4 linked regions of the Homo sapiens genome follow. The protein of the gene in region 1 purifies or fractionates together with the protein of each later gene. This does not show direct contact. Each region holds a gene or a part of one and is shown in the gene's direction. Other genes may lie near its edges.

Region 1 (7,024 bases):
TAAAAAGTAACCTTATAAGACATTCAAAAGCATTAGACTGCAATTGAGTGAGTGTAAACAAAGCAGTATAATGTGATGATCAAGAGTGCAGGCTTTGGACGGTGACAGACTCAGGTTTGAGTTCCAGCTGTCAGTAGCTGAGTGATCTTGAGTAATGCAAACTTCAGTTTCATCAGTTCATCATCTGTAAAGTGGAGATTACAATCATGTCCATTCCCTAGGGATGATGTGAGGATTAAATGAGATAATGACCGCTTAGATTTCAGCCTGAGTCTCAGTACATGTTAGCTATTACTACTATCCTTTAAAAAGGAGCATTATTTTTTATTTATTTTTCTTCATGTGTATATTGAAAACTTGATTGTTAATGCTGCTGTCATGGTAAATAGGCCATTTGAAGGCCCCACATAGAGATTTGTGCTTTTGCTTATGTAACTTTCTCAGAAAAGTGACCAGCTGCACTGTGTCTGCAATTGCCAATTCTGGTGAGGAAGTTAATATTTTTATTTGAGTTTCTGGGAGAGACTTTATGGCTTTTTTTTTTCTTTTTTTTCTGTGAACCAAATCTTTCAAGTGGGCCAGGTATCACTTTCTCATAGAGTATTATTGTTGTGAATAAGAGAAATAGAGTGTGGTACCCGGCACACAGTGGGAGTGTTATAGATGTTAGCTGAATTAATGAATGTGGAGTGGTGTGTAAAAACGTAATATATTCATATGGAAAATATGACATCACAAAATTAACACTGTTCAATGGAGGAAAATAAGGAATCTAATGAATCTTATTTTTAACGACCTAAATTTTAGAAACCATTTTGTTTGGGTGATACTAGATAGTTGTGAACATTGTGCTTTGTAATAATGCCAGTATTTGCATTAGATGATTCATGGATCTTTTTCTTTTCTGTCAAGGGCTGTTTGCTTCAGTGGTTTAGCAATTTTCTCTCACTGAGTACATTTTTAGAGGTGTATTTGCTAATTGATTGCGTGTTTCCTCTTTGAACTGAAATGAGCAACAGAAGACACATCTTATCTATGGCAGCTGTGGCACAAATGACATGCCGAATGTCAAGCAAAAAATTTTGAAATAATCCAAATAAGATTTGACCAGAAGAAATAGTTTGCCTTGACATAAAGCCCTTCCTAAGGAGATCACAGGCTTTCAGTCTCTCAGGCTACTGGCTAAAATGTCACTACTGATATAATGCAGCACCCAGGCATGAGAAATTGGTTCGGTCTGGGAGGATAGGCCATGTTACTACATCAGGACCCATTCCCTGGGTTTGTTTTACAAGGTTACTGGATCCAAATTAGAAAGAGATACAGATGGGTTTTTGTGTTGCCAGACGCAGTAGAGCTTAACTTGTGAATATACCAAGATTTAAAACCACAAAAGGAAATAAAACCCCTTAGATGTGAGGTTGGAATTCATTACAGGTCTGACTTCGCTTGATTAATACAGATCCTTATGAGAAATTAGACTGTTTTAAGGGAATCCCATTGTTTTTTCTCATTAATACAGATTTGATGTGAAACAGTTTCTTTTGTGGAATATGCCTTTAGACATTAATAAAAAGCAACATTATATTATCTTTATTTTAACTTTAAAATAAAGTTTAAATAAAAATAATTATTTAAATTAAAAAAAGATTTAATTGGGCCTTGAAAGATGACCAAATGTAATTAGAAAAGTGCTCTGTCAGTTTGAACATTGTTTTTCATTAGTCTGAGGTACTTTTTAAAAGTAAGATGTTTTGTGTGTAAACTCTGAAACTTGCTGGGTCTGTGTAAAGGTTTTTTACAACGATTCGGGAAGGAGATAAAGTGCTAATATCTATTAAAATGAAGTATGTAGAGAAACAGTGAGTGACCATGTTGGATACCATACAAGAGATGTTCAACAAAAGTTTGAATAAAATTATGCAGAGTAGTTTTGGAAAAGTGAATTTTATGAAAATCGTTCTGATGTATTCTATTCAATTTACTGTTTGCAGTGAGAGTACAATCTGGACAGGATCAGAAGTAGAGAATGAAGTTGTAAGAGAAAGGGAAAGACAGAAGAAAGGCTGCAGTAGTACAAGGAGAAAAGCAGGATGCAAGAATGAGGAATGAATCTTTGTTTGAGGAGCATCCGGAAAAATATAAGCTGTCAGAAAGAGTAAATAGACCAGGGACCTCTAAAGTAAATTCACACATCAAAGTTAAAATAATGTTGGAGAATCACCTCCTGTGAAAAATTGGCTTAGCTTTCAGTATGCCTCTTTAAACAAAACATTATCATTTTATACAAATTTTTAAAATGTTGTTCATAATATGGAGTTTAATTTTAAGCACCTTAGATAATGCATTTGTAAGCTTGTTTGTGAAATTTTTATGGATTTTTTTTTTCAAAATTCCTAATTTTAGTTGGTAAGGATTAACTTCGGGAAGACAGGAAACCCCTCCAGTAAAATTAATTGGTTATAAATGGTTACATATTTTAGGCTTATATACATAACAAAACTTCTTACTGAATTTAAAAGTGATCTTGTGTAAAAACATTATTCTAGTGATATTGATGTCTAAATTTAAAAGAGTGAATACACAAGTAAAATATATCTGCTTTTTAAGGATCTATTCAGTTTAGGAAGGAGAGTCAAAATTTGTATTTAATTTCAATTTATTATATTGTCTGAAACTGAAAGTAGGCCTAACTTTTGTTTGCTTTTGTGTATGTACAAAGGCAAACATTTATCAATCAACTCTTATTAATTTGAGATTATTTTGACCTGATTGCTCAGAACTTTTGTCTATCTGTATAGAAATGGGGTTTTCTAAATATTTAAAGAATTTCCTACGTATGTAAATTTACTTGCACACAGTAAGTTAGGGGAGACATTTAATATTCCTCAGATACCTGCTGTTTTCTTGTTGTGTTTCTTGTTTTTCAAATAAATAAACTGAGTGTTATCTGTTCATTAAAATAGAATGTAGTCAGCTCGAGGGAAACATTTTGTATTGAGTTTCTTGTACTAAAAAGCACTAAATGGTATTCTCTTGCATTTCTGAAACAATTATGGAATGTTTTAAGACTAGCCTTCCTACCAAATAATCTTAACTACTGGAGCTTTATGATATACTTTATGGTATTTTCCAGAAATATGTCAATTTTTTTTTAAAGATGGAGTCTTGCTCTGTTGCCCAGGCTGGAGTGCAGTGGCATGATCTCAGCTCACTGCAACCTCCACCTTCTGGGTTCAAGCAATTCTCCCTGCCTCAGCTTCCTGAGTAGCTGGGATTACAGGCGCCAGCCACCATACTCAGCTAATTTTTGGATTTTTAGTAGAAATGGAGTTTCGCCATGTTGGCCAGGCTGATCTCGAACTCCTGACCTTAGGTGATCTGCCCACCTCGGCCTCCCAAAGTGCTGTGATTACAGGTGTGAGCCACTGTGCCCGGCTGAAATATGCCAATTTGGATATCCTTCTCTTGCCTTATTAAAAATCATCGGTCACCCAGGTATTACTTCAAATTTACTAGACAGTGAAATATAAATGAGATGGTATGAAATCACTCTGAAAGTATTAGGGTTGGATATATTATGTAAGTTTCTATAATTAGAAAGCATTAAGTCCCAAATCGTACCAATAGTTTTAATCATATCTAAATGGATACTCACATACTAAATGTGATTAAATATAAAATGCATAACGAAATGTCACATCCTTTCCTGATAGAATACTAATAAGGCATAGTATTTCATGTGCAGGAAGATACAGGAAAACACACAAGTAAGAGTTTGTTTTGCATATATAAATTGTTATGCCTTTGAGATTCTTTTCTTCCTGATGGTAGGATTTGGAAACCATTGGACTAGATGATGTCTAAATTTCCTTTCAGTTCTAAAAATTACTAAATATCTTGCCCTTATAGCTTAGATACTGTCTCCAATAGGTTAAAGGCTCAGAGATGATAACACTTTCTGTTTAAAAGTTTTTAGAAACTTACTTTTGAATATAATGAAAATTAACTTTGAGGCATGCACTGTTTTGAAATCTAAATGCCTCTAAATCTACTTCAGACAACCCTTGCAGTTCTTGTTTCAAGGGAGGCAGAACCGTGTCTGTTATGCAGAGATCTTATATTAAACTTGCTGGGAAAATTGCCAGTGTGAATAAAGAAGTGAATATTCCTGCCAGGTAGGTAGGTATTTTATGATCTTTCTGTTGGCTGAAAGTGGTTGACTAATAAAGAGACAATGAAACACACTTAACTATTTGTATTTTTATGTTATCTTTCGAGAAAGTTTGTTTTCTATATATGAGTTAGTTTCTGCAGTCCCTTATGCATTTTTTAAGACCTGGAAATCCGTCCATTATAGTCGAAGAAGGCAACCCCAAGTGTTAACTGAATTAAATCCTAGCAAGTTCCTTGATTGTTATTCCTTAGAAACATTGTGTTTAAAGGTCTCAAGTTGTAAACATTCATGGTACTACTTTGTTATCTGTTAGGTCCATTTCTTTTCCTTTTTTTCTTTTAGATCTTTAGAATTTCAAACATGTACAAAAATAGATTAAGTAATGAATAAACCCCTGTGTATTCATCATCTAGTTTCAGCTACACCCTTGCTACTTATTAATTTAAAAATAACCTAAAAATTACATTGCAAACTAGAATTTTCTAGGACCTGAAATGTAGTCAGTAGGGGTTAGTTTATATGAGTAAAAGATAATATTTGGTTCACATGTAATCATGTTGAAATTACTTGAAAAATAAAGCTCTTGGCCGGACGCGGTGGCTCACTCCTGTAATCCCAGCACTTTGGGAGGCTGCGGTGGGCGGATCACGAGGTCAGGAGATCGAGACCATCCTGGCTAACACGGTGAAACCCCATCTCTACCAAAAATACAAAAAATCAGCCAGGGGTGGTCGCCGGCACCTGTAGTCCCAGCTACTCGGGGCTGAGGCAGGAGAATGGCGTGAACCCGGGAGCCGAGAACATGCCACTGCACTCCAGCCTGGGTGACAGGGCCAGACTCCGTCTCAAAAAAAAAAAGCTCTTTAGAAAAAGGCTTTCAAACTTTTTTGTCTGTGACCCAGATAGAGAAGTAGTTTTTGACTAATAGAAATTTATAACAAAATTACACAAATATGTAATATCTTGTGAAACATTACCTATTATTAATCTGTGTGAGGTAGTTAAGAGAACCATAGTGACCTTCTAAATTGAATTCACAATTCATGGGCCGTGAAACTCAGTTTGAAAAACAGCATTTTCAGGTATGGAGTAGTTTGGGGCTTTTGTTTATTTTTTACATGCCATGTTAGTCTGGAATAATTATGATTTTTGTTAACACAAGGATTTTCACTAGACATTTATCAGTAATATCAGCATATACTGTTATTAGTCATTATGAGTAAAGAAAATAAAACATTTTGGATTTATACATTAGCCATTATATATAGCGATTTTTTTTCCTTTTAGAACTTTAGAAAAAGGGGAAGCCACAGTAATTTGAATATAATCAAGACATAACTTTTCCAGTATATTCAGTTGACCTTCCTTTTAAATTAGACCTTGTGTTCCTTATTCCTGAGCCTTTGAGTTTGCAGGGCTGGGAGTACTAATGTTTATTCTAAGCCAAATGCTTTACTTGGTTGCTGTAGTCTGAGGCACATTTCTGTTGAGTACAGATTGACTTGAATACTGGCCAAGGGAAGAGAGAGAGAGGGTAAGCAGAACCATCACTAAAGAATCATCTGCCGTTCATGTTTAAGATCCTAGAGTAGTGGGATTATTTCCTAGTTTTTAGACACTGCTTCCTGGAGGAAAAAAAGGCAACAAGATGTCCTCCTTTGTTGGCAACTATCTGTGAAAAACTTCTAAATTCATAGATTGAAGGAATGTGTTAAATTTAACTTGGGATTTTTTTGATTATACGAGTTTAGCAGGTTTGGGAATCATTGCCGAACAACTGGAAAAAAATAGCACAAGGAGCTCCAGCATTGAAATTATATTCATTAATGCTGAATCTCAAATCGTGCATCAAGGGAGATGAAATAAATGGCCTTAATGCAAACCAGGAAACTGCTACCTGGAAAAAAGCAAGTATAAAGAGGTTTCAAATAGCTTGCAGTGAACTGTCATTGAATTACCCTTACACAAATAACATAGTGATCACGTATCAAAAGTATGGTGCTAACCTAACAGCATTACTGTTTTCTACTAGGATTGAACTCCAAATAAGAATACTTTCTAACCACATTTTGGAAGAGACATAGAATCTATGTTGATGGTAGCTTAAGATTTAGGAGAAAAGCCTGAAGGAGCTAAACTTAGGAACAGGGAGCACTAGGGGGATGTGATTATCTATTAATACTTTCAAGGTAGCAGTGTAAATGAAGTAAGGGAATTAGGCAGTCTCCAAAGATGGATGGGCTGTATCAAAGAGCAATGGCCTAGAGCACAGGGAAGAAAGCATAGGTTTAGTATTAAGATGATTTTAATGAAACTAGCGGAAGAATAGAGTTATTTGCACTCATCGTCAGAACCATTATAAGTAGGACAAAGAGCTGGTTGAGAGGGTACTCAAAAACAGAAATGATCTCTTTCTTACATAGTACTGTGCTTGTTTAGAAGCTCAATGAGAGAAAAATATGGAAATGAATATGAAATGAAATGGACTTTTCAAAAGTTAGTGTGTTTTTCTGTTGTTTGTTTTGTTTTGAAACAGGGTCTCACTCTGTTGCCTAGGCTGGAATGCAGTGGCGTGATCATTACTCACTGCAGCATCAACCTTCCAGGCTCAGGTGATCCTCCTGCCTCAGCTTTCCAAGTAGCTGGGACCACAGGCGCATACCTCCATGCCTGGCTAATTTTTGAATTTTTTGTGGAGATGAGGTCTCCCTATGTTGCCCAGGCTGGTCTCAAACTCCTGGACTAAAGTGATCCTCCTGCCTGTGCCTCCCAAAGTGCTGGGATTACAGGCATGAGCCACAGCCCCCCTGCCAGCCAGAAGTTTTTAAAGATCAGAAATTAGTGTTT
Region 2 (7,024 bases), on another chromosome or scaffold:
CAGCCCGTCTTACCCCTGGGACTCCCAGCGCCCAGCACGGAGCCTGGGATGTTAGAGCGCTGGGTCAAGGCATGTTGAGAGAAGCACGGGCAGTTTGGGGGCCTTGGAATCAGCCTGACGCCAGCGAGTTCCTAACCCGCCGTCTGGCCTCCAGTTTCCCCTCTGCACAATGGAAAGCCTGCTCTCCACGGTAGAGGTGACAGGGCGTGGCTAGGCAGATTTGTCACACTGCTGTGGTCTTTGTCAGAAGAAAATCAAAATGAGAGGGCCCAGTTAGGGGCAGAAGGAGAGCAGTTAGAATTTGCCGAAGGTGTGGGGGCTGGAAGAGGTAAGGTGATGTGTAGGGGCTGGATGTCCTGGGCCAGGATATCGGGAGGCTTTACTCTTCCCCACTCCCACTAACCGGAGGTCCCGAGAGGAACGGGGTCTGGGCTGCTCCCTGCCACCTGTCAGCAGGTCAAGCCTTCCACCGGAAACTGCCCCTTATTCAAGAATTTAGCTTCTCTCAAAAACTCCGAAACCCCTTTTCTCTCTCTCTCTCTCTCTCTCTTTTTTTTTTTTTTTTTTCAATGCTCCTGGCCTTGGACCCAGCACCCAAAGACATGGATTAGCCCTATCCACTAGGACAGAGCATTGCAGACCCACTAAGCCTTGGAGAGAGAAAAGGATCTTGTTCATTCTTAGTCCCCAGAATGACCAAGACAAACCCCGTTAGCCAAACCCCTAAAAAACTGTTTGGCTTAGGTTAGATTAGCTCCAAGTGTTTGACCTTGAAGGGGAACACCCCACCCAGAGTCTTAACTATCCTTCTCTGGAAGGATTCTTCAGGCAATCTGAATTCTTCCCCCGAAGGGCGCCCCTCAGACAAGGCTCCCTACCCAGCCCAGTTCCCTGCTTCTCAGATAAGCATTGATTCCTGTCATCCCAGTGGGTATTTGGTGGGTAGGGGTGAGAAGGAAAGAGGGATGAGAAAAGCAAGGCCTCTGCCTTGTCAGACTGGGATGACAACCTTTCTCCACTCATGTCCCCTTTTCTGCAGGTCATAGGATTAGAGCAGGCCCTGGGGCTGGAGTCCAAAATGCTTGTGTGGAATGTTTTGCCCTTGGCTTCCTCTGCCAGTATCTCTCCTTGTGTCCTCTTTCCTCTTTCCCTTGTGTGAGCCATTCTTGTTCCACTGACTTATTTCCTCTGTACATGTTAAAACAGAAATGACAGGGACTTTCTATTTCTGCCTCTACCTTAAGCCAGTCCTCTGTGTTCAGCCTACATGAACTTGAGTTGAGGAGGGAAACCAGGCAGGATCTAGTGAGGACCAGAGCCAAGGGCTCTGGGTCAGGGAAGAGGCTTGAGAGGCAGTCTATGTGTGAAGGATAGTGGAGAGGCCAAAGGAAAGGAAAGGATTGAGAACATAGGTGCCAAGGGGCAGAGCCCCCATTTCTACCTTTCCTCACCCCAGTTCCTCTCTGCCTAAGATCCTCAGCCTCATTACTCACCTCTGCTCTAGTTTCCCAAGTTTCATGCACAAATCCCTGGGACAACTCAGGGAAGATGAACTGGGATGGGATTACTAAGACCCCCTTCCTCTTGCCTTTCTGCCACTTCACTTGGGGTGTGGCAAAGGGAGTTTGGAGCAGTGCGTTTATTGGTAGGAAGGTCAGGGACTCTCAGCTAGGTTCAAGGAAAGTCTTAGCTTAGAACACCTCATGGCAAGGTCTACCTAGGTTGCGAAATCAATGCCAGGAATACAAACAAGTAGTATACCCTCAATACTAACAGCCCATCTAACATCCCAGGCTCCGTGCTGGGCGCTGGGAGTCCCAGGGGTAAGACGGGCTGTTAGTATTGAGCCCGGGAAGTTAGCAATATCTAACAAAGCTACGTACACATTTACCCAGCAATCCTACGTCTAGGAATTTATCCAGAAGGTGCTCATTCACAAATATGGAAAGCTACGTACAAGGTGATTTTTGTTTGTTTGTTTGTTTGTTTTTTGAGACAGAGTCTCGCTCTGTCGCCCAGGCTGGAGTGCAGCGGCGCGATCTCAGCTCACTGTAAGCTCTGCCTTCCGGGTTCAAGCAATTCTCCTGTCTCAGCCTCGTGAGTAGCTGGGATTACAAGTGCTAGCCACCACACCGGCTAATTTTTTGTATTTTAATAGAGATGGGGTTTCACCGTGTTGCCCAGGCTGGTCTCAAACTCCTGAGCTCAGGCAATCTACCTGCCTGAGCTGGGATTATAGGTGTGAGCCACCAAGCCCAGCCACAAGGTGGTTTTTAAAGGCATATTTACAATAGGAAATCATTGGAAACTATCCAAATGCCCATTCTTTAAAAAATGGTTAAACAAACAATGGTACAGTCCATACAATAGAATCCTAGGTAGCCAAAAAGAAAAAAAAAAGAATGACTAGGAGCCCTGTGAACTTATATGACATGATTGTTAGGATATATTATTAAGTGAAAAAACCAAGACATAGTACAGTATATAGTATGCCACCTTTGGGATAAGAAAGCAGGAGAAGTAAGAAATTTTTTTTTTTTTGAGACAGAGTCTCGCTCTGTTGCCCAGGCTGGAGTGCGGTGGTGGGATCTCGGCTCACTGCAAGCTCTGCCGCCCGGGTTCACGCCATTCTCCTGCCTTATCTTCCTGAGTAGCTGGGACTACAGGCGCCTGCCACCACGCCCGGCTAATTTTTTGTATTTTTAGTAGAGACAGGGTTTCACCATGTTAGCCAGGATGGTTTCGATCTCCCGACCTCATGATCCGCCCACCTCAGCCTCCCAAAGTGCTGGGATTACAGGCGTGAGCCACCACGCCTGGCCTAATTTAAGTACTTTTTAACCTTCATTCCCTGATTCTATATTCATATTTTAAGTAAAAAAAAAAAAAAAAACCACCTACAAAGAAATCTTGACCTTTACTTTGTAGACATGTTATTGGTTGTGGTATTTGTGTCATAAATTGGAAACTGTTTCGTTTATTGTATGATAGATGAAATGAGTAACTATGGTGATATTTCTGGAAATCAGGGTCTCACTATGGAAAAAGAGAGATATAAGTATGGAATGGGGGAAGGGGAAAAAGAATCTTTCGGGGTTTTTTTGTATATCTTGTGGGTCTGTCCACTGAAAGGACTGTGGAAAGGAACACACCTAGTACCTGGATTTTTATTTCTAAGTACAACTTCCCACGGGGGAGGTTGTAAGGAACAGTGCTCCTTGAAAAAATGACTAATTTCAAGTCTGAGACTGGGAAAGTATAAGTGAACTGTGTTGTGCCAGAAACTAGAGCATGCTCATGTCATGACATGTTGTCACAGGAGCTGGCTTAAAGGGTCTCCCGCCAACCAGAGGTGAAACACATTAAGCATTCCAAAGGATAATGGTAATAGATTGTAACACATTGAATATTAAAAATTCCTTGAGTCTATTTTGACAGTTGACATGGACAGGGAGGAGCAGGGAGGGAAAACTCTGAACAGAAATGCCAACGAGGCCAGACACAAGGCCTCACTCTGTAATCCTACCACACTGGGAGGCCAGGGCAGGAGGATCGCTGGAGCCCAGGCGTTTGAGGCTCCCATGAGCTCTGATCATGACACTGCACTCTAGAATGGGTGATAAAGCAAGACTCAGTCTCAAAAAATTAAAAAGTAAATGCCAGTTGGGCGCAGTGGCTCATACCTGTAATCCCAGCACTTTGGGAAGCCCAGGCAGGTGGATTACTTGAGGTCAGGAGTTTGAGACCAGCCTGGCCAACATGGTGAAACCCTGTCTCTACTAAAAATATAAAAATTAGCCGGAAATCGATTGAACTCAGGAGGCAGAGGTTGCAGTAAGCCAAGATTGTGCCACTGCACTTCCAGTGGGAGACAGAGCGAGACTCCATATCAGATAAATAAATAAATAAATAAATAAATAAATAAAGTAAATGCCAACTAATAAAATCTAGTAGTAATGACAAGATTTTTCTTTAAATTTAATTTTATGTGAGGCTGAGGTGGGTAGATCACCTGAGGTCGGGAGTTTTAGACTAGCCTGACCAATATGGAGAAACCCCGTCTCTACTAAAAATACAAAATTAGCCGGGCGTGGTAGTGCATGCCTATAATCCCAGCTACTCGGGAGGCTGAGGCAGGAGAATCGCTTGAACCTGGGAGGCGGAGGTTGCAGTGAGCCAAGATCACACTATTGCACTCCAGCCTGGGCAAGAAGAGTGAAACTCCGTCTCAAAAAAAATTTTTTTAAATTTAATTTTAATAGAAAAATACTAGTTTCATATATGTATGGGGTGTAATGTGATGTTTTGATATATGCATACATTACGGAACGATTAAGTCAAACTATCAACATATCCATCACCTCACACATTTATCGTTGTTTTTGTAGTGTAAACATTTAAAATCTCTCTTAGCAATTCTGAAACATGCATTACATTAACTATAGTCACCATGTAGTGCAGTAAATCTCAGAAACATTCCTTCTGTCTACTGAAACTTTGCATCTTTTAGCCAACATTATCTTTATTTACCTACCTATTTTTAGAGATAGGGTCTCACTCTGTCAGCCATGTTGGAGTGCAGTGGCCCATAGCCTTGAACTCCTAGGCTCAAGCGATCCTCTTGCCTCAGCCTCCCAAAGCACCAGGATAATGGGTGAGACACAGTGCCAGACTGGAACTTTAAATTGACCAGTTTGCAGCCTCTACTATAATAGCTGATTTAGTCTAGCGTTTAATGGATACTAAAACCACTGGGTGAAAGATTGGTCTTAGCATATCTTAGTTTGGGCTGCTAAAACAACATCATAGACTGGGTGGCTTAAGCAACAGAAATGCATCTCTTTGTTTGTTTGTTTGTTTTTGAGACCGGGTCTTGCTTTATCATCCAGCTGGAGTGCAGTGGCACAATCACAACTCACAGCAGCCTTGATCTCCTGGGCTCAAGCTATCCTCCCACCTCAGCCTCCCAAGTACCTAGGACTACAGGCGCATGCTATCATGCCTGGCTAATTTTCATATTTTTTGTAGAGACGGGGTTTCACCGTGTTGTCCAGATTGGGCTCGAAATCCTGGGCTCAAGCAATCCACCTGCTTCAGCTTCCCAAAGTGCGGGGATTACAGGCATGAACCACCGCACCCGGCCCCATTTATTTATTTATTTATTATTTTTTGAGATGGAGTTTTGCTCTTGTTGCCCAGGCTGGAGTGCAATGCTGCAAACTCAGCTCACCGCAACCTCCGCCTCCTGATTTCAAACGATTCTCCTGCCTCAGCCTCCTGAGTAGCTGGGATTACAGGCATGTACCACTACACCCGGCTAATTTTGTATTTTTAGTAGAGACGAGGTTTCTCCATGTTGGTCAGGCTGGTCTCAAACTCCCAACCTCAGGTGATCCACCCTCCTCAGCCTCCCAAAGTGCTGGGATTGCAGGTTTGAGCTATCACACTCAGCCCCCATTTATTTTTGAAACAGGGCCTTGTTCTGTCACCCAGACTGGGGTGCAGTGGTGCAGTCATAGCTCACTGCAGCCTCAAACTCCCAGGTTCAAGCAATCCTCCGACCTCAGCCTCCCAAGTAACTGGAGCAGGTGCATGCCACCATGGCTGGCTAATTTTTTTGTTGTTATTGTTGTTTTGTTTTTTTGTAGAGATGGATGACATAGGAAGACTCCACCTCTACAAAATAAAAAATTAGCTGGGCATGGAGGCTGTGCACCTGTCTGTAGTCCTAGCTACTCAGCAGGCTGAGGCAGGAGGATAACTTGAGGCTGCAGTGAGCCGTGATCATGAAACTATACTCCAGCCTGTTGACAGAGTGAGACCCTGTCTCAAAAAAAAAAGGTGAAACTAAGTAAAGGGTCTGCAGTTGTTTATTGTGCTATTTTTTTCAACCTTTCAGGTTTGAAATTTTTCCAAATACTTAGCCAGAGAGAGAAGTCCATGCCAGAGGCACTCCTAGATTCCTGGTTTCTTCTCACTTTATCTGCAAAACTCCTGACCAATAGGAGTGTCTTTTCTAAGCTCTTGGGTGCTGAGAGTCCCCATGGAGCACACAGAGGGATCTTCTAAGAAAGTAAGGTCCTTTAGGAAGCCTACCTTCCCACCCTCACTGCTCCCCACCCACAGCCTCTCCTGTCCAGACAGGAGCACCTGGGCCCTGATGAGTGGGCCACAAAGGGAGGTAGGATGACAGGCATTCTCCCACCATGCCATGGGGCCAGCTGAGGGAACCTGGGGACTGAGGGCTTCCAGAGTCACCCACCTAACTTTTGAGGAGACAGGTCCCAGGCTGTAAGAGAAGAAATTCACCAAACAGCCCAGAGATTGTTGCTGACCAAACCTTTAGTGTCCCTTAGAATTCTCTAATTAGGTGATTCTGAAAGAAACCAGCAAGCAGTGCCTGCCTGGAGCCTTCATGCCTGAGCTAAGCAAGGCCTTCTAGGCACTCCCTTGGCAAGGGCAGCACACCTGGCTGTCCTGTCATTGACCCAAATCATTGTGCTACCCACCCCCGCCTCCCCATCCTGATCGTCGCTCTGGAGAGAGATTGAGTTTCCAGGATGGCTTCTCTCTCTCTTTTTCTCCCTCTCTTCTCCTGGAAACCCTGGGGCTAGGCCCTACATGACTCAGGGCTCTTTTTACGTAGGCTCATGTAGGTGACGGCTATTAATCCTTTAGTCAATTCCCCTTCTGTGTTGGTGAGGGAGCCTGAAAGAGCGGGAGCCAGGAAGTTGGAAGGGGGCAGACAGGGAGGAGTTTGTTCTAGTGGGCTGCCAGGCTTGCCAGAAGAGCACGGGACTGGGAGTCAGAAAACTGGTAATCTGGACTCTTGTCTGCTGTGTAACCTTGATTGAAGCAGGGGATATCTCTGGGCCTTCATCAACTGCACTGTTACATGAAACCAAGTTTGGACATACAGACATTCCTGATTCAAGACCCTCCTCTTCTATAGAAGACAAAGGAGTAAAACTCTCAATGCCCAAACCAAACTCTTTTATCACAGATAGAGTCTAGCACAATGTAA
Region 3 (7,780 bases), on another chromosome or scaffold:
AACGTAGAGTGAGCTGAGGCTCCTGAGAAGAGCCAACTAGAATGCATCAGGGCTCGCTTGGAACGGGAAGCAAAAGACAATTTGACAGACTGCCACAGATGTTCTATTATTAAGCAACAGGGAAATGCAGACTCATTCAATCCCAACTCTTCTGTCTTTTCTATTAAAAAGAAAACTTTCCATTCCAGAAAAAAGAACATGAGGGAATATAAGAGGAAACTGAAGTCTGAGACATTTGAAGAAACAAGAAAGGGTGCCTAAATGCTTTATGTTAGTTGAAGTCTTCAAATGCTGAATTATATTGCAAAGCAGTGCTCACCAACATTTTTCATATCATGACACATACAGAAAATACCAGTATTTGTAGGGTACACTGGGGTACTGGGAGATGGCCAGCTTCGGGGCTCTGGTTGCCCCAAACACCAAGGGAATCCATTTCTTGACCCTCCCGTAACAGTTCCCAGAGCCTTATATTTGGAACATAAGAGTTAAGAAGCTTATCTAGAATCCTAAAATAAAGGTAGACATGGTTACAGATTCACTAATAATCTTTTTTTTTTTTTTTGGAGAAAGGGTCTCGCTCTGTCACCCCCGCTGGAGTGCAGTGACACAATCACAGCCCACTGCAGTCTCGACTTCCTGAAGTCAAGCAATCCTCTGGCCTTGGCATCCCAAAGTGCTCGGATTACTGGCGTGAGCCACCACGCTCAGCCTGCAGAATGCGCTAACGATCTTTGAGGAAGAGATGCCAGCAAGCTTGATATGAAATGCTACCTGAATTTTAGAAAAGATTATACAGATGGTTTTTAAAACCATAAAGATGTGGCAAACACTGGACACTAACATACATTTATACATTCATAAAGAACAATGCAAGCCAAACCATCTTCGTAGTGGGTAGAATTGTGGCCTCTAAAAACATATGGCCATGTCCTACTCCTCTTCAGAACCTGTGAATGTGATCTTACTTGGAGAGGGATCTTTATAATTAAACATCTCAAAAGGAGATCATCCCAGATTCAGGGTGGGCCTAAAGCAAAGAGGAAGGCAGAGGGAAACATGAGACTCAGGGACACAGGGATGAAAACCACATTAAGACGGAGGCAGAGATTATAGTTATGCAACCACAAGCCAAGGAAACTGTTAGAGCTACCTTCTGGTCAGAGGCAAAGGATTCTCCCCCAAAGCCCTCAGAGGGAGCATGGCCCTGCCAACACTTTGATTTTGGACTTCTGGACTACGGAACTGTAAGAGAATACATTTCTGTTGGTTTAAGTCACCATGTTTGTGGTAATTTGTTATAGCAGGCTTAGAAACTAATACGTTCAATCCTCACTTCTTTGTTGATAGACAAAGGTTTGCAGGACGTGGGGGATGTTACAGAAATGGAATAGCAATGAATTTGTCAAAGCCATTATGATATTCTTGTGAATAGATAAATTAAAAACATTTGGGGCCAGGCGCAGTGGCTCACGCCTGTAGTCCCAGCATTTGGGGAAGCCAAGGCGGGCAGATCACGAGGTCGGGAGATCAAGACCATCCTGGCTAACATGGTGAAACCCTGACTCTACTAAAAATACAAAAAACTAGCCAGGCGTGGTGGCAGGCACCTGTAGTCCCAGTTACTTGGGAGGCTGAGGCAGAAGAATGGCATGAACCTGGGAGGTGGAGCTTGCAATGAGCTAAGATCGTGCCACTGCACTCCAGCCTGGGCAACAGAACGAGACTCCGTCTCAAAAAAAAAAAAAATTAAAAACATTTGGAGGAGCAACCACACCTCCCTTGGGGACTGAATTTTAGGTGAGATTTACAAGCTCACTCTGAAAAAGATTACTGCTCAGAAAAATCAAATTGCTTTTCCACCAGCATTGCTTTTCCTCGAGAGCAAGAATTTCTATACATTTGGTTCACTGCTATATCCCAGTGCCTACAACTGTGGCTAGCACATAACAGGAATGCCAGAAAGAGTTGCTGTAAGAGTTAACTCAGCAGGCCTGTGTTTACCAAACCCTGCACATTCCCAAGAAAGTCCTATTTTCATGACTGGCAGTTGGCTGCCTCCTGAGAATTGAGCAATTAGAATATTCTGCCTGATCAGAGTGTTTTTGCATACCTGAGGTCTTGAGCCACTGCTGTACCAAGTTTTCCCAGACAGTTTATACTAGCAATGTGATTGATGGTGAATACCTGCTTTTCACTGGAGGTCTAGAACTTGAATAACTAAGGTCAGTCTGTAGGCCTACATGACTGATAAGGGCTATATGCTGAGTCTTGGGTCCTGTGAGTCCTTTTGGCAAATCTGCAGGCCTGAGGATAGTCAGGCATTCCTGCCACAGTCTAAAGAGCTATTCACCTAATACTACAATACCAGGGGGTTCACCACGTATATATAAGCTAACCAACTCATTACCTTTGTGTTCTTGTTATGATCTGGCGTCAATTTTCTTTTTTTATTGCTGTGAAATTCTACCACTTCTACTTGTTCCCTATTGTTCTTTAGGGAAGAGGGAGGAACTGCAGCAGCAAGGATCTCTGGTCCTGTGGGGGTCCCAGAAGGAGCACAATGCCGCTCTTCTCTAAGTTCCTTGAAGAAGCTCGAAGCGCTCTTCCTCTGGCCTCTTATGAGAGAACCAGGTAGGGGAGATGGCTCTGCTGCCAAGGCCGCTGAAGCCATCACATCTCTCTTCTTGTTTTCCCTTTTCTTTATGATCTTCTTCTGTTCTGTTTCACCTTCTGTACCTCCTGTTTGTTCAAACACAAGAAGGAAAATAAATATTTTCAGTCTTAGCTATCATCAGTATCAAATCCTACGAATGTATTTGTACATATTCCAGGGCTATATGCACCTAGAAGCACACACAAAGAAATAAACTATTTGTTTTCTTTCAAATAAGTGTATTTGCAAAATGCAGAGAATCCAAAATGTAGTCATCTTTTCCTAGGTAACTATGTCTTTGACCCTTATTAGCACAATCACTTTAGTCTCCACTTTGGTTCCTACTCAAAGTGTCATCACAGCAATAGTCCCCAGGGCTGGTAATCCCAATTGGCTTTATACTAAAAATATCAGGCACTGCAGCCACTGTTTCTTTTTAACACTTTCTGGGTTACAGGAACATGGAATAGTCTTCCTATTTTCTTTCACAGTTAGGAATTAAGATGAACCTAAGACAACTGGCTCAATTTGAATGCCTTTGTTTTCTATTAATTCCTCTTTCTATATTTCACTTGTTGAAGCTCTGACCAGTCACCTGAAAGTTCTAACCAGAATCCTAGGCATCCTTACTCACATGTATTACAAATACCACAGAGCTCTCTAAATTACCAGCTGCTGATTTATGCTTGCTACTATTTGCTTAATCTTTTATACAATAAACATTTAAGAGCCAACTAAACTTTGGCATTAAGGATATAAAAATGAATAGACACATTCAATGCCTTCAGAGCTCCTACCATGATTTCCAGCCTGTGTTGACATGAACTATATTATTTTGCAGAATAGTCTTTTCCTCTAGATTTTAAACTTCTCAAGGTCAGAGACTAAGTCTTCTCTGTCCTCCAATATGTCCAAGGGCACAGAAATGCTAGTTAATACAAGCATGGGGTCTGGGGCTAGAATCAGAACCCAGGCTCTGCAAAAATTACCAGTCAGACAACCTGCATCAGGTTTCATGAACTTCTAGTACTTGTTTCTACATCTGCAATCATGGATTTATGACAGTGTCTATTTCATGAAGTTGAAAATTAAATGAGCAAATACACGAAAAGCATGTGCTATATGGCAAGTTCTCAACAGTTTTAACTATTATTCCTACTGTTTAGGTGAACTTAGAATTTTGAGCAGTCATTCCAAAATAAAAATAGCTTTTAAAATATCACGCTGTAAATTTAAGAAATGTGTGTTGTCCTGAAATCTAATGATTTTCTTTGGTGCATGTGCAAAGGGTGTCACCTTCTCCCGGGAAAGCTCTTCAGAGTATGAGGCACTGTCTTCCTACTGACATGCCATGCGACTTTAATAGGCTCTTTTATTTTCCTTTTCCCCCATCAAGACAAAGAACGGAGAGTAAAAGATCAGCGCACTTGTTTAAAAAAAAAAAAGTCGTGAAAAGGACAACTCGCCAAGGACTATGATGTCTCTGGAGAGGGACACACAAGGATGAAGCTGGTGTATTATCCAACAGGCCCGAGGCCCCAGAGCGAAATGACACCATCGCACCAGGGTCAGGCAGGTCTTGGGGGTGGCATGGGGAAAGGGGACTTCCCAGGGCTCAAGAAAACGTGGAAAAGCGGGCTACTTTTAAATCGGAAAGCCTTGGTGCTTCCTACAAGCAAGTAGGATGGTCCCCACACTTGGGGACGAGTTGGAAGGTTTGATGAATAACTCAGCAGAGCCCGGTCGAGGGGTGACTTCCGATGGAGAAATGTGTTCGCTACTGGAACCAGGTGGGACGAAGGGTGCTTGACATGCAAGAACCTTTAGCCTCAAAGCAGAGGCCAACCCAGGACGGGCAACACAGGAGACCCACGTTCCTCAAATCTGTTCTCCACGTGGGCTCCTGGGACCCCGCACTCACCAAAGTCGTAAAGGTTCTGGAGCAGAGCGTCAAGAAGTGTCGGAGAACTGGGAGGCGTGGAGGACCCCGGCCCTTGCTCCTGCGACATTGTGGGGTCAGCCGAGGAATCAACCCTCATTCTGCCGCGCTGCACCCCCGCTTCCGGGTTCCGCGACTGCGCGCATGCGCTGCAGGGCCCTGCGCGGCTTCCGTCCTGGCTGAGATGGCGGCGCCCGGGATCCTGTGTAGCGGCTGCAGAGGGTGCCGCCGCCCTAGGCGAAGTAGGGCCGTCCTGAGCGAAAGAACCGCCCCCAGCAGGAGCACCACCACGGCTTAGCAAAGAATCCCAGACCCCGCCCGGGAAGGCAGCCGCACCATGGAGTCTTCCAGTTCATCTAACTCTTATTTCTCCGTTGGCCCAACCAGTCCCAGCGCTGTCGTGCTCCTCTACTCGGTAGGCGCCCAGGGAAAAGAGGCCCAGAGCGGAGCCGCGCGAAATAGTACCCCTTTCTCCCAGTCCCTATTCCTCCGGCCCACCACCCTTGCCCAAAAGAGCTGGCCCCTAGGCTCCCGAGGAGGGGTTAGTTGGTTGGATTGGTTTCCAGGACAACAGTGTATCGCTGTGTGTCTGTGTGTGCATGCTTTTGGAAGTTTCTACGGATTATGGTTCCTTTGGTTCCTTTCCACTTTTTCCTTCTCTTTCTTTCTATCAGGCCCTGGGGCCTTCAGAAAGCTCCTGGACACGAGAATGAGGAATGAGAATTGGAGTCTCCCCATCTCTAGCGAGGGCATGTCGAGCTACCTTTTGGGCAAACCTGAGAAACTTGCGGGTTTGACCCGCCCTGAGATAGCCTGTGGCTCCGCACCCCGCCCTATGCTGCTGTTATATTCCTGGGAGTAGAGCACTTGGCTTGTATGTGGGAATAGAGTTTTAAACACTTCAGGAAAATTTAGAACTTCTAGACATTTTTATTGCCTGTTCTTGTCTTCCAGTCATTATTGTACCTTTTCCACAAATCATTTTGGAGGACAGCCAGCGCCACCCAGCTTCTCTCCCGCTTGTCTTTTTTTCCTCCAACCCCCTCTTCCTCTCTTGGTTTTAACGGGTCTTTTTGGCTGGCAGATGTTGGTCACCCACGATTTTCATGAAGAAATTATGAGATGGGAGCTTTATAGCCTTCAGGATTGCACAGACCTGGGGCAACTGGTTTGGTTTTTGTTTGTTTCTTGTTGTTTTTAACCACTAAATTAGTTTTTAGCTACTTTAGGAGAAAATGAAAGAATTCATTTTAAAAGCATATTAGCATATCCTGGTGATTACTGTCCAATTTTGGCTTAAATGTAGTGTTCATTTGTGCAGAAAGGTCAAAACAGGGATAACACAGCAGAGCAAGATAAACACCCCAGTTTTGAAAGAGAATATATGGGTTCCTTCAAATTGAGACACCAATATTCTTTGGAACATGGAGAAACTTCTGTTCCCTCTCTATCAAGACCTTTCGGTTTCTGATTGCTAACTGCCTATAAGCCTTATTATTTAGATATATCTCTTCATTGATCTTATCTTCCCCACAGTTCTGTGGTGGATATCAACTTTGTTTTCTGACTCTGCTACTCCAGAGCAGGCACGAAGGGAAGAGGGTTGCTGTGCAGATCCAGCTTTTAACATGTAGCTTTTTAAGCTCCCAACTGGTTTGTGAATTGGTTGGAATTTTCCTTTTGTACATTAAAGGAAGGAGTTGGTTTTGTTTGTTTGTTTGTTTGTTTTACTTCCCCTTTACCAACGGTTCTTTAATAAGACTTGAGTCCACTTTTTCATGTGAAAAACTATGGCAGTTGTATCTGAGCATTCTGTAGTTCTGATGCTGGACAGCAACCCACTCTTTACTGGTAGTTCTCACTACTGTTTTGTGACTGGATAACCTTTACTTCCACGGTAACCTTACTTTTTCTTAGTACTTCAGGCTGTTTTTATTTCCCCAGCTACGCTGTTATTGTGTAATATTCTGATCTAAAAGTAGCACTTTAGAAGCGTAGAAGATACTGCTGATTGCAGCAAACATTAGGAATATATACAGTATCCTACTCATTATTCTCAGTTTCCAAGATATAGAAGTTACAGATGCAGGCTCTGCCTTTAAGGGCACAAAAAGTCATAAAAGTAAACAAACAATCACAGTTAAGTATGGTAAGGGCAATGATTGAAGCATGCACAGCGTGTTGTGGGAGAGACAAGAAGGGGCACCTGACCAGTTTGGGAACTTGGAGAAGGTTTCTAAGAAAAGGTGATATCTAAGCTGATCTTCCTTTTTTGTTTTTGTTTTTGTTTTTGTTTTGTTTTGGAGACAGCCTTGCTCTGTTGCCAGGCTGGAGAACAGTGGCTCGATCTTGGTTCACTGCAACCTCCATCTCCGGGGCTCAAGCGATTCTCCTGCCTCAGCCTCCCGAGTAGCTGGGATTTTAGGCACACGCCACCCCGCCCTGCTAATGTTTGTATTTTTAGTAAAGACAAGGTCTCACCGTGTTGGCCAGGCCGGTCTTGAACTCCTGACCTCAAGTGATCTACTCACCTCCCAAAGTGCTGGAATTACAGGCATGAGCCACTGTGCCTGGCATGAGCTGAGTTTTTGAGCTGTGAATGGCAGATGAGGGAGAGGAAAACTGTCCTAGATGTTGATGTAAAAAAAACTACTCCCTTGCATATTTGGGGTTAGAATTAGTTAGATTTGGGTGGAAGAAAGGAGACATGAGAAACAAAGTAAGGAAGTAGGCAGATATTTCCTAAAGAAATTTTATGTGTCGTGTTTACATATCCTTAGGGATAAAATCTTAACTTTATGGGAGATTTTAATCTTACATCTATGTGTGTGTGTGTGTATACACATATATATATAAATATATGTGTGTATATGTATTTTTTTTTTGACATGGTGTCTCACTCTGTCACCCAGGCTGGAGTGTAATGGCACAATCTTGGCTCACTGCAACCTCCACCTCCAGGGTTCAAGAGATTCTCCTGTCTCAGCATCCCAAGTAGCTGGGATTACAGTTGCCTGCCACCACACCCGGCTAATTTTTGTATTTTTAGTAGAGTCGGGGTTTCACCATGTCGGCCAGGCTGGTGTCGAACTCCCGGTCTCAAGTGATCCACCTGCCTTGGCCTTCCAAAGTACATTTATATTTTTGAAAGTCTGAGAAGACTATAGGTTTCTGGTGTGATTATC
Region 4 (7,024 bases), on another chromosome or scaffold:
TTTCGCCATGTTGGCCAGACTGGTCTCGAACTCCTGACCTCAGATGATCCCCCGCCTTGGCCTGGGATTACAGGCGTGAGCCATTGCACCCAGCCACGTTTGATTTTTATAAATGCATTTGTTGTTCCTTTATTTTGGTTAAAAATACATAATATAAATTTTTTTTTTTTTTGAGATGGAGTTTTGCTCTTGTTTCCCAAGCTGGAGTGCAATGGCACGATCTCGGCTCACTGCAACCTCTGCCTCCGAGGTTCAAGTGATTCCCCTGCCTCAGCCTCCTGAGTAGCTGGGAGGGTGTGCGCCACCACTCTCGGCTAATTTTTTTTTTTTTTTGTAGTTTTAGTAGAAACGGGATTTCACCATGTTAGCCAGTTTGGTCACAAACTTCTGACCTCAGGTGATCCGCCCGCCTCAGCTCCCAAGGTGCTGGGATTACAGGTGTGAGCCACCGTGCCTGGCCAAAATGTGCTATTTTAACTCTAAGTTAACAGTGGCATTAAGTAGATTCACAATGTTATGTAGCCATCACCATTATCTCCACAAATATGTTCATCTTCTCCAAGTGAAACTCCACTCCCATCAAACACTAATTTCCCATTCTCCCTTCCTCTGTCTTCTGGTAACCACCATTCCACTTTCTGTTTCTGTGAATCTACTCTAGGAACTTGAATCTATGTGATTTTTTTTTTTGCATTATTATCTTAAGAGACAGGATCTGGCTTTGTCATCTAGGCCAGACTGCAGTGGTACAACCATAGCTACTGCAGCCTCGAACTCCTGGGCTCAGGCAGTCTTCCCACCTCAGCCTTCCAAGTAGCTGGGCCCACAGGCATGTGCAACCATACCCAGCTAAGTTTTAAATTTTTTGTAGAGATGAGGTCTCCTGTGTTGTTCAGGCTGGTCTCAAACTACTGTCCTCAGGTGATCCTCCCACCTTGGCCTCTCAAAGTGTTGGGAGGGATTACGGGCATTACCCACTGTACCTGCCTTCATCATATTTTTGTGTTTAAGTTTTGGGGTCATTAGATCATCAGAGCAAGATGGTGACTTGGCCTCTGGAAATCACAAATCTATTTTCTGTCTTTATGGATTTGCCTATTCTGAATTTCTAATATAAATGGTATCTTATAATACATGGCCTTTTGTGACTGGCCTCTTTCACTTAGCGTGATGCTTTCAAGATCAATCCATGCTATAGCATGTATCAGTACTTCATTTCATTTTCATGCCATATGATATTCCTTTTTGTGGATAGACCACAGTTTCTTTTTTTGGTTTTTTGTTTTGTTTTGTTTTTTGAGACGGAGTTATGCTCTTGTTGCCCGGGCTGGAGTACAATGGCGCAATCTTGGCTCACTGCAACCTCCACCTCCTGGGTTCAAGCGATTCTCCTGTCCCAGCCTCCCGAGTAGCTGGGATTATAGGTGCCTGCCACCACACCGAGCTAATTTTTTGTATTTTTAGTAGAAACGGGGTTTCACCATGTTGGCCAGGCTGGTCTTGAACTCCTGACCTCAGGTGATCTGCTTGCCTCGGCCTCCCAAAGTGCTGGGATTACAGGCGTAAGCCACCGTGCCCAGCCAGACCACATTTTCTTTAGCCATTTATCCTTTGATGGACACTTGGGTTGTTTCCAATTTTTGTCTCTTGTGAATAATGCTGCTATAAACCCTCTTATATATGTCATCGTGTGGACAGATTCATTCTCTTTTATGTTTGGGATACCTGTCTTTTATCAGATACATAGTTTACAAATATTTTCTCTCATTCTGTGGGTTATCCTCACTTTGTTGGTGGTATCATTTGCAGCACAAAAGTTTTCAACTTGATATTGTTCAATTTATTTATTTATTTTCTTTTGCAAACCCCCCACTAACAAGAAGACAAATTAACGGTTCAGTGAGAAAATAATCGGCCAGTATTTTTTTTTTTTTTTTTTTGAGACGGAGTCTCACTCTGTTACCCAGGCTGGAGTGCAGTGACGCAATCTTGGCTCACTGCAAGCTCCGCCTCCTGGGTTCACACCTTTCTCCTGCCTCAGCCTCCCGAGTAGCTGGGACTACAGGTGCCCACCACCACGCCCGGCTAATTTTTTTTTTTGTATTTTTAGTAGAGATGGAGTTTCACCTTGTTAGCCAGGATGGTCTCGATCTCCTGACCTTGTGATCTGCCCGCCTCGGCCTCCCAAAGTGCTGGGATTACAGGCGTGAGCCACCGTGCACGGCCAATCAGCCAGTATTTATTAAGCACCTACTTCTTGTAAAACCCTGGGTTTTACCTGTAAACACAAATTTTGAGAGAACATGAAGTAAAGGAGTCACCAAGGCCGCTTCCCAGCGTTTCTTCTTTGGGTTAAAGGATATCAGGGCAGGCCAGGTGCAGTGGCTCATGCCTGTAATCCCAGCACTTTGGGAGGCTGAGGCGGGTGGATCACCTGAGGTCAGGAGATCAAGACCATCCTGCCAACATGGTGAAACCCCGTCTCTACTAAAAATACAAAAATTATCTGGGCATGGTGGCACGTGCCTGTAATCCCAGCTGCTCAGGAGGCTGAGGCAGGAGAATTGCTTGAACCAGGAAGTCGGAGGTTGCAGTGAGCCAAGATTGTGTCACTGCACTCCAGCCTGGTGACAGAGCGAGACTCCCTCTCAAAAAAAAAAAAGATATCAGGGCAGAAAAGGGCAGAGGCCCTGAGTTAAGAAGACAGAGCTGGCACAGGCAGGGGAAGGCCAGGACTGGCAGAACACTGAAGCAGCAGGCACCTGCTTCCTTCTGTTGTCTGTGCAGAAACTGCTCTTTGAGCGCGGGAAGGAGGCCCTGGAGTCCGAATTTCGCAGCCTGATGACGCGGCACAGTAAGGTCGTCTCGCCCGTGCTCATCTTGGATCTGATCAGTGGTGACGATGATCTGGAGGCCCAGGAGGACGTGACCCTGGAGCACCTGCCCGAGAGCGTGCTCCAGGATGTCATTCGCATCTCCCGCTGGCTGGTGGAATATGGCCGCAACCAAGGTAAGGGATTCTGGCTTGGCCACATGACACACCAGAGGCAGAGGGAGTTTTCTCCCCTTTGTTCTTTTTTTTTTTTTTTTTTTTTTTTTTTTGAGATGGAGTCTTGCTCTGTTGCCCATGCTGGAGTGCAATGGTGCAACTCGGCTTGCTGCAGCCTCTGCATACCCGGGTTCCAGCGATTCTCCTGCCTCAGCCTCCCGAGTAGCTGGGATTACTGGCGCATGCCACCATGCCTGGCTAAGTTTTGTATTGTTAGTAGAGATGGGGTTTCACCATGTTGGCCAGGCTGGTCTTGAACTTCTGACCTCAGGTGATCTGCCCACCTCAGCCTCCCAAAGTGCTGGGATTACAGATGTGAGCCACCATGCCTGGCCCCCTTTATTCTTTAATCCACCTGTCATGGTTTTTTTGATAAAAGGATGTTTAACTGGAACCAATATAAGAATATAAGCAACCATTCTATGACTTGTATATCAAGTGGTGAATCTAGGCAAATTCAAACTTTTCTTGTCTTGATTTTTATGTTCCTTTGCCTTTTTTGATTAGTTGTAAAATTTTCAAAGCCATGGGTGAAAAGTAAAAGTCCATCTCCCATTCCCTGATGCCTCCATTACATAAGCCAAAGATGAGCACTATTAAGGTTTATTTATGCCAGGTGCTGTGGCTATGCCTGTAATCCTAACAGTTTGGGAGGCTGAGGTGAGTGGATCGCTTCAGCTCAGGAGTTCGAGACCTGGCCAACATGGCAAAACCCTGTCTCTACAAAAAATAAAAAAATTAGCTGGGTGTGGTGACGCATGCCTGCAGAGCCAGCTACTTGGGAGGCTGAGGTGGCGGGGAATGACTTGAGCCTGGGAGGTGGAGGTTGCAATGAGCTAAGATCACGCCACTGTACTCCAGCCTGGTTGACAAAGTGAGACTCTTGTCTCAAAAGAAAGAAGGCCAGGTGCAGTGGCTCATGCCTGTAATCCCAGCACTTTGGGGGGCCAAGGTGGGCGGATCACCTGAGGTCAGAAGTTCAAGACCAGCCTGACCAACATAGAGAAACCCCATCTCTACTAAAAATACAAAATTAGCTGGGCGTGGTGGCGCATGCCTGTAATCCCAGCTATTACTGAGGCTGAGGCAAGAGAATCTCTTGAACCCGAGAGGTTACAGTGAGAGTGCACTATTGCGCTCCAGCCTGGGCAACAAGAGCAAAACTCCATCTCAAAAAAAAGAAAGGAAGAAAGAAAAACTCCAATAGATATTCAGTGTTGCACTTTTTTTTTTTTTTTTTTTTTTGAGACAGAGTCTCGCTCTGTCACCCACGCTGGAGTGCAGTGGCATGATATTGGCTCACCGCAACCTCTGCCTCCTGGGTTCAAGCAATTCTGCCTCAGCCTCCCAAGTAGCTGGGGTTACAGGTGCCCGCCACCATGCCCAGCTAATTTTTGTATTTTTTGGTAGGGACAGGGTTTCACCATGTTGCCCAGGCTGGTTTTGAACTCCTGACCTCAGGTGATCCACCTGCCTCGGCCTCTGTAAGTTCTGGGATTGCAGGCATGAGCCACCTCGCCTGGCAATGTTGCACTTTTTAGCCCTCCAACTCTTCTCTTTGTTTGTGTGTACACATACCAAGTTGTCAGCGCGGGCTTGCCTTGCCCCAGAACTGTGTGGCGGCAGGTCTCACGGCCGCGATGTATCTGATCACATGAACACGTTGTGGCTCGTGAGCTGATGACAGCTCGGCAGAAGATTTTCAGGAGCTCCTTAGGATCAAGAGGGAGGCGCAGTGGACAGCCTCCAGACCTCTCAGCCTGTGCCTCTGTGTTTTGGTTCATTTCTTCTGTCGGGGTTCCTTGTAAACTATTTGTTGGGAACTTCTGAAATCCACCATAGTTTTCATGTCCTTTTCCTCAGTCATGTGTGCAAGGAGCTCTTCCTGTTTTTCAGCATTGATGAATGGTACCAAAATGGACATACCTTTGTGAATTGCTTTTTTCTTTGAGGAAGTTCTTGAGGGTTTATTCTCAAGGGTGCAGGGATTAGGTGTAAGTGTCTGAAGATACTTGTAACCTTCTTGCCATCACTAGCTCCTCTCTAAATAGATCAGGCCAATCGATGGACTCATCGACAGTTCCATGGCCATTTGTTCTTCATTAATTTTTGTTTTTGCTATCTGATAGGACTATCACAGTCCTCTAATTTTTTTAATTTATACTTTATTAATGGCTAAAGATGTGTGTTTTTCATTCACTGACATTTGTTGTCTTTTTGCTTCCTATAGAGCTCATGTTCTTTGACCCCTTACCAAGTTGAATCTGGATATTAACTTTGTTTTTTTATTTAAAAAAAAGTACTATTTAAAACTTACAACTAGGGCTGGGCGCCATGGCTCATGCCTGTAATCCCAGCTACTTGGGAGGCTGAGGCGGGAGAATCACTTTAACCCGGGAGGCAGAGGTTGCAGTGAGCCAAGATCGTGCCATTGTATTCCAGCCTGGATGACAAGAATGAAACTCTGTCTCAAAAAAAAAAAAAAGCTTACAACTAGGGCTGGGCGGTGGCTCATGCCTGTAATCCCAGCACTTTGGGAGGCTGAAGCTGGTGAATCATTTGAGGTCAGGAGTTCAAAACCAGCCTGGCCAACATGGTGAAACCCCATCTCTACTAAAAATACAAAAATTAGCTGGGTGGTAGTGGCTCATGCCTGTAATCCCAGCTATTCAAGAGTCTGAGGCAAGATAATTGGTTGAGCCTGGGAGGCAGAGTTTGCGGTGAGCCAAGATCACACCACTGCACTCCAGCCTGGGCGACAGAGTAAGACCTTGTCTCAAAAAAAAAACAACTTACAACTAATTATCAGTTCTATCAGAGGGTGTTTTTCTCTTTTAAGACTGCCTGGCCAGGCATGGTGACTCACGCCTGTAATCCCAGCACTCTGGGAGGCTGAAGTGGTCAGATTACTTGAGCCCAGGAGGTCGAGCCTGCAGTGAGCTGACATCGTGCCACTGCACTGCAGCCTGGGCAACAGAGCAAGACCCTATCTCAAAAAAAAAAAAAAAGACTTTGAAAGACTTTGCCTGATTTGGGACAAGATATGGGTGGCTTGTGACCAGAGCAGGGAGCAGATGCTAAGAAGGGTTGACAGGTTTGACAGGTAGACATGGTGGGTCTGCAAGGCAGAGACAGGGCCTGGCAGCCGTACCTCTATCCCTCTGTGTCTCCTCAGATTTCATGAACGTCTACTACCAGATACGCTCCAGCCAGCTGGACCGCTCCATCAAAGGACTGAAGGAGCATTTCCATAAGAGCAGTTCTTCCTCTGGGGTTCCCTACTCCCCTGCTATCCCCAACAAGAGGAAAGACACACCTACCAAGAAGCCAGTCAAGCGGCCAGGTGAGCCCCCATCCTGGCCCATCTCTGCAACAGCCAGAGGCTGACTGGGACTGTACTGCTTTAGTCCAATCTAGCGTTCGCAGCGTCAGGCCCCTCCAGAGCTTGTCGTCGTGGTAACCCCGACTGTAGGTACACAGGACAGAAAGCAAGTGTCTACCCACCCAGTGAAGCCCCCCAAGAGCAAGACTCTTCCTTCCAGCTAGCAGAGCCTGGGGTTACACAGCTTCTTTGGAGTAGGGGAGTAACACAGGTGCTCAGCGAATCCCGCCTGAGGCAGAGCCCCTGCCTAGGCCTCCTCCCTCACACACACGTCGCCCTGTCAGAAGGCCAGGCACACTACTGCAGCCAGGATGCTGGGATAGCAAGGGGATAGGTGCTCCAACCTTCACCTTCCAGAAAGGCAGGGTGATCTGAAGTGACGTGTAGCTGAGAGCTGGATGGGGAGAATTTCACTTTCCCAGTTGATCCAGAAAGGAAAGAAACCCCAGAGCATCCTCTCGGAAGAACTTAAACTGGCTTTGGGCTCCAGTGCGAGCGAGTGACTTGTGGAAAGGGGCACCATGATGAGAGGCCGGGGCCGGTGGGTGTTGCTGTCCTGGGTGAACATCTCGTCATCTGTCTGTTCTTTCTCC

The links.
Region 2: the proteins of NPTN (region 1) and ATP2B4 purify together in Homo sapiens (co-immunoprecipitation; 3 studies listed by BioGRID and IntAct, with this or other methods). This does not show direct contact.
Region 3: the proteins of NPTN (region 1) and GNPAT purify together in Homo sapiens (co-immunoprecipitation; 2 studies listed by BioGRID and IntAct, with this or other methods). This does not show direct contact.
Region 4: the proteins of NPTN (region 1) and EXOC7 purify together in Homo sapiens (co-immunoprecipitation; 2 studies listed by BioGRID and IntAct, with this or other methods). This does not show direct contact.

Annotation. Positions count from the first base shown.
Region 1 is NC_000015.10:73,623,369-73,630,392, reverse strand, and holds part of NPTN (neuroplastin isoform b precursor), read left to right. Parts: intron 1-7,024. UniProt on the Homo sapiens protein: Probable homophilic and heterophilic cell adhesion molecule involved in long term potentiation at hippocampal excitatory synapses through activation of p38MAPK. May also regulate neurite outgrowth by activating the FGFR1 signaling pathway.
Region 2 is NC_000001.11:203,629,821-203,636,844, forward strand, and holds part of ATP2B4 (plasma membrane calcium-transporting ATPase 4), read left to right. Parts: intron 1-7,024. UniProt on the Homo sapiens protein: Calcium/calmodulin-regulated and magnesium-dependent enzyme that catalyzes the hydrolysis of ATP coupled with the transport of calcium out of the cell. By regulating sperm cell calcium homeostasis, may play a role in sperm motility.
Region 3 is NC_000001.11:231,236,447-231,244,226, forward strand, and holds the start of GNPAT (dihydroxyacetone phosphate acyltransferase), read left to right. Parts: upstream 1-4,765; 5' UTR 4,766-4,932; coding exon 4,933-5,010; intron 5,011-7,780. Other genes in the region: FSAF1 (40S small subunit processome assembly factor 1), read right to left, coding at 2,411-2,742, 4,578-4,695. UniProt on the Homo sapiens protein: Dihydroxyacetonephosphate acyltransferase catalyzing the first step in the biosynthesis of plasmalogens, a subset of phospholipids that differ from other glycerolipids by having an alkyl chain attached through a vinyl ether linkage at the sn-1 position of the glycerol backbone, and which unique physical properties have an impact on various aspects of cell signaling and membrane biology.
Region 4 is NC_000017.11:76,093,782-76,100,805, reverse strand, and holds part of EXOC7 (exocyst complex component 7), read left to right. Parts: intron 1-2,729; exon of another isoform or gene 2,730-2,787; coding exon 2,788-3,010; intron 3,011-6,224; coding exon 6,225-6,392; intron 6,393-7,024. UniProt on the Homo sapiens protein: Component of the exocyst complex involved in the docking of exocytic vesicles with fusion sites on the plasma membrane.